Linked DNA regions of Homo sapiens: region 2 is linked to region 1. Evidence: fine-mapped expression QTL. Tissue or cell type: whole blood. Region 1 holds a variant in brackets; the other region holds the start of a gene. All regions are shown on one strand. Distances are from middle to middle. Region 1 overlaps EIF4B (eukaryotic translation initiation factor 4B). Region 2 holds the start of EIF4B (eukaryotic translation initiation factor 4B).

What was found. PIP is the estimated chance that this variant, and not a neighbour inherited with it, causes the effect.
Region 2: EIF4B starts here. The variant in region 1 is fine-mapped to the expression of EIF4B in whole blood (INTERVAL, PIP above 0.99).

What each region holds. Positions count from the first base shown.
Region 1 is chr12:53,031,577-53,034,386 of GRCh38, reverse strand. EIF4B (eukaryotic translation initiation factor 4B) reads right to left here. Exons shown (of 15, transcript NM_001417.7): 9 at 353-581. Among named protein-coding and RNA genes, the nearest start is that of TNS2, 17 kb to the left of the region's middle. The variant A/G (reference allele first, on the strand shown) is at 1,486.
Region 2 is chr12:53,005,042-53,007,851 of GRCh38, reverse strand. It overlaps EIF4B (eukaryotic translation initiation factor 4B), which reads right to left and starts at 1,396. Exons shown (of 15, transcript NM_001417.7): 1 at 1,356-1,396. The coding sequence starts at 1,368. RefSeq lists enhancers at 538-1,281, 1,282-2,025.

The DNA of each region.
Region 1 (2,810 bases):
AATCTACAATACTGCCCTTCTTTACTAATCAACACAGTTCTACAAGCCACTCATTACCAGGCCTAGTTTTTCAGGGCAATTACTTATTATAGTAGGTCTCTAGCCTTTTAGATACAATACCAGCTTTTAATAGTAAACACTTTTGTAATGGACAGGGAACAACTCTTCATTGTGTAAAACTGTCCCTAACACTGCATACTGCCTAACACCCCTGGCCACAGCCCACTAAATGCCCATCAGTGACAACCACTAATGTGATAACGACACAAATTTCCCAAATGCCCCTGGGGATGTAATGCCCCCATTACGAACCACCGGATTCCTAGATGGGATATCCATCAAGACAACACACCTCTCCCGAGGCCGTCGTTCTAGTTTTGGCTCATCCAGCTGACGCTGCAACTTCTCTTGTTCCTTCTGTAGCCGTTCTTCTACTTCTCTTTCTCTAGCAGCTGTGTCAACAGGCTTTGCCCCTCCAAAGATAGAAGCAGCTCGAGTGGACTGGGAGGTACTAGCAGAGGAATCATCTTCCTTAGGAGTACTCCGAGGCTTTAGATTCAGTTTGGGTCTTTGGGGGGGACCTAAGTTAAATGAAACTTTAAGTAATAGTTTTCCAATCACCAGAAGCTGATGGCTGAAAGCCAGATTTCTCAGATATAACTCCTATGAAATGCTACATGAGATTCAAGTTAGTGGCCTAACCAATCCACAGAAGGCAAATAGATCATTAGAAAACAGGTAGTTTAGGCTGGGCATGGTGGCTCACGCCTGTAATCCCAGCACTTTGGGAGGCCGAGGCGGGTGGATCACAAGGCCAAGAGATCGAGACTATCCTGGACAACATGGTGAAACCCCGTCTCTACTAAAAATACAAAAATTAGCTGGGCGTTGGGGCGCGCACCTGTAGTCCCAGCTACTCAGGAGGCTGAGGCAAGAGAATTGCTTGAACCTGGGAGGCAGAGGTTGCAGTGAGCCAAGATCGAGCTACTGCACTTCAGCCTGGTGACAGAGCAAGGCTCCGTCTCAAAAATAAAAAAAAGAAAAAAAAAAAAGAAAATAGGTAGCTCAGGCTGGGCGTGGTGGCTCACGTCTGTAATCCCGATACTTTGGGAGGCCGAGGCGGGTGGATCACCTGGGGTCGGGAGTTCGAGACCAACACAACCAACATGGAGAAACCCCGTCTCTAGTAAAAATAAAAAATTAGCCAGGCATGGTGGTGCATGCCTATAATCCCAGCTACTCGGGAGGCTGAGGCAGGAGAATCGCTTGAACCTGGGAGGCAGAGGTTGTGGTGAGCCAGGATCGCACCACTGCACTCCAGCCCTCCAGGCTGGAAAACAAAAGCAAAACTACGCCTAAAATAAATAAATAAAAATAAATAAAAATAAAAATAGGTGGCATAAATAACCAAGTTCTGGCCGGGCGCAATGGCTCACGCCTGTAATCCCAGCACTTTGGGGGGCTGAGGCGGGCGGATCACCTGAG[A/G]TCAGGAGTTCGAGACCAGCCTGACCAATATGGAGAAACCCCATCTCTACTAAAAATACAAAATTAGCCAGGAGTGGTGGCACATGCCTGTAGTCCCAGCTACTCAGGAGACTGAGGCAGGAGAATCGCTTGAACCCACCGGGGAGGCGGAGGTTGCAGTGAGCTGAGAACACACCACTGCACTCCAAACTGGGCAACAAGTGCCAAACTCCATCTCAAAAAAAAAAAAAAACAAAAAAACCCAAGTTCAATTACTCTTCTACCACATCCATGATGTAGTACAAGACCACAGGAAAGACTAAAAATGGTAAACATTTAAGTAATAAATTAATAATCTATCAAGACTTCTTTTATATGGGAAGAAATTTTTGACCATCATTAAACTACTGGATGAAAGTATCTTGCTCCGAAATCTGCATGTTAAGAACTAATACAATATGATAGGGAAGATTCTAGTTCTTTATTTTTTTTGAGACAGTCTCGCTCTGTCACCCAGGCTGGAGGGCAGTGGTGTGATCTCAACTCACTGCAACCTCTGCCTCCCTGATTTTCCTGCCTCAGCTTCCTCAGTAGCTGGGAGTATAGGCACGTGGCACCATGCCCAACTAATTTTTGTATTTTTAGTAGAGATGGGGCTTCACCATGTTGGCCAGGCTGGTCTTGAACTCCCGACCTCAAGTGATCCGCTTGCCTTGGCTTCCCAAAGTGCTGTTACAGATGTGAGCCACCACGCCCAGCCAGGAAGACTCTAGATCTTATACCCTTGTCTCTGTGTATAATATAAATTTGGCAGGTGGTTCATGGGGCAAAGCATGTAACACTGAACAAATAAACTCTTAAGGCAGGCAGTCTGATTTCTTCCTCAATTCAAGTTGTCAGAACACTTTCAAGAGAAACCTAAGTGTTTCAAGGAAGTTAAATTTCTAAAAATGATTGTTTGTCCTAAATATTTTGGATATACAAAAGATACAGAGAATATAAAGAAAGCCTATGTATACAATCACCTGGCTTAAGTAATGTAACCTTAACAAAGAGGTAAAACCTCCTGATGACATGACCAGCTGTACTCTGTCCTCTAAATAACCACTAGATGGTGACTTCATCATGCCCACACTTGATTTTATACTTTTACTACATATGCACATAGTACCTGTAGATAGAGGGTACTGTTTAACAAGATCTAAATTTTCTACGAGGGCTTTAAGCCGACAGTTTATATATGTTCCTAAACATATTTTAAATCTGTGTTATAGCCCCGTCACTTTTGTAAGATAAAATAGGGGCTCAGAAAAAGTAGCTCATTTAAGATATTAATAAAAGAACGC
Region 2 (2,810 bases), 27 kb after region 1:
AACATGCACAAAAGTGCTTGGTCAACTGTCAAGCGTTACACCAATGAAAGATGTTCAAATGCACCTCAAATTTCTCAACATTTTCCAAAGCCAACCAAAACCCTTAGCTTCTTTGTAATAGAGACGATGAATTACTAGGTAAGAAATGAGCACCCAGAGATAGAAGTTCAAATAATGTTTTGAAGAATGCAAGGTCATGCCAGAGAAAACAAACTATATTCCTCAAACTAAAATCAATGCTACAAGATGTTGGGTCATCACTGCTTTTATAAGCCCATTAGAAATGTAATTAGACTTGCAAGGCACTGATACTCCCCTCCAAGGTTGTCTAAAGAAGTAAGCAACTCCAGCCATTAGTAAGCACTATTTTAAAAGTACCTGCTGGTAGTTGCACAGTTACCTTAAAAAAAAAAAAAAAAAAAAAAAAAAAAGGCTGAAATCTACCATTGGAGCTATCCAAATTCAACCAACATGGAAGCGCCGGAAGCGAAACCTGATCCTGGCATATAGCTGCGCTGAGTAAAAAATGCCTCCAATTGAGTATGAGAAAAAAGCCTAGAAGGAAATCTAGGTGCACACCGGTGCTTCTCCAACACGTGGGCGCACCTAACTGGATTCCCCACCCCCATCTAACGCCAATAGCACCAACCTCCAAGGCTAACACACACACCCTTAGAAGAATACAGGCACAGGGCCCACACTCTAGAAAGGGAAGAGACAACCTAAAAGGACATAAGTGCGCAACACAGGCGCGTTAAAAAGCTTCCCATCTGGGTTCTAGCGCACGCATTGAAGGCGCGCCCGTCTCTACTACCCTCGTGTCTCCTACCGCGCACGCGCACCGCTGCCTTCCCCCGCCCCTCCACCAACTCGCGCTCGCGTTCCAACTGCTCCCCCCCACCACACTTACTCCCCTACCCCCCACTCCGGTCCGCTACAGCCTCGCGCCTTGGAGACGTAGTCTAATGTGCACTCGTCCGCGCAGCAACCGCCTCCTTCCTTCCTCCACGCCTTCACGCGGGCACGGTGATTCACGTCTACGAAAAGGCCTCGCACCACCCGCACACCTTTCTGCGCCTCCTTCCCCAATTCAAGCCAGAGTCTACCATTACTGCCTATTCCAATCTCGCGCAGAAAGGGTGAAAAGAGTGTGAGGGGGAGGGGAAGGTGTCCTTCCCCTCCCCCCCAAACATCCAGAGGCAGTAACCTAACAGGGCCACGCCGCCAGCCTGCCGCAGCCCTCAATTCAGAAAGGAACCAGTGCCAGCAATTCCCCGACTTCAGGAAATCAGTGGATCACGCTCGGAGGGGGGTTTCAGAGCCCAGTCCTTGGCCGCGCTCGGCTGCTCGCTCACCTGAGGCCGCCATGTTGGGAGAGGGAAAGAGAACGCAAAAGACCCGGATGAGGCAATCACGTGATTATAGCGGGCGCGTCGAGCTAGGAGACGCGAAGCTGGGAGGGGGCGGGGAGGTGAGGACGGAGACAGGAGGCGGGGCGGCGCTGCTCTAGGTTCGTAAAGCTGCGCGGCGAGGTGGCACGCCGTCCGACGGGAAGACATGCGCGACATGTGGCCAAAGGGGCGGGGCCTGGGTTGTCGCGAAACCCCTCACGCTTTACGTAGGGCTACACGCGAGCGCGGGGCTGGAGCTGAGTCCTGGCCGGCCTCCTGACGCACAGACTTCCTGCCGGAAGAGTGGCGGGAAGGGCGGGGCTTCGCTGCTGCTTCTGCTTACTCTGCACGGAGCCGGTGATGGGTGTGGCGAAATGGATGTGCTGAAAGGGAAGATTCTGAGTTTAATGTACTTTTTTGAGACGGAGTTTCGCTCCTGTTGTCCGGGCTGGAGTGCAATGGCGTGCGCGACCTCGGCTCATTGCAACCCCCGCCTCTCGGGTTCAGGCGATTCACCTGCCTCAGCCTCTGGAGTAGCTGGGATTACAGGCGCCCACCACCATTCGCTGCTAGTTTTTTGTATTTTTAGTAGAAACGGGATATTTCACCATATTGGCCATGCTGGTCTTGAACTCCTGGTCTCAGGCTATCCACCCGCCTCGGCCTCCCAAAGTGCTGGATTATAGGCGTGAGCCACCGCGCCCGGCCTAGTTTTTAAAAGCCACATCAGAAATCACTGATTTTATTTTTATTTATTTTTATTTTTTGAGACGGGGTCTCGCCCTGTCTCCCAAGCTGGAGTGCAGTGGCGCGATCTCGGCTCACTGCAGCCTCAACCTCCGGGGCTCAAGCAGTTCTTCCACCTCAGCCTCCTGAGTAGCTGGGACCACAGGCGAGTGCCTCCAGGACCAGCTAATTAAAAAAAAGTCTTTGTGTGGAGACAGAGTGGCGGGCTTGGGGGGGGCGGTGTGTCTCCCTGTGTCGCCTGGGCTGGTCTCGAACTCCTGGACTCAAGCATTCCTCCCTCCGAGGCCTCCCACAGTGCCGGGATTACAGGCATCAACCACTGTTTGTTTTCAAATTACTTTTTGTAAAGGCAAAACAAATCGAACGTCTTGTGTAAGAATGGTTTTAATGAGGCATATTTAGACGGAATAAGAAGGTAACAAATGCTGAACACTTAATTGTCATGGGCTTTTACCTCATTTAATGGTCCAATTTGCTGACTAGGTTTAGTCCAACTTAGGCCTTTAGGATTTCTGAGACTAGGGCTATTCATGCTTCCCCTAGCTGATGTTCCATTTCATTCATTAAATGAAAATTTTTGTTTCCCACCGTGTGCCAGGCACAGACACTTGCGGGTACAACATGGAATAGAACTGTCCCAAAAGAGGTTATATTCTAGTGGGGGAAGGACAG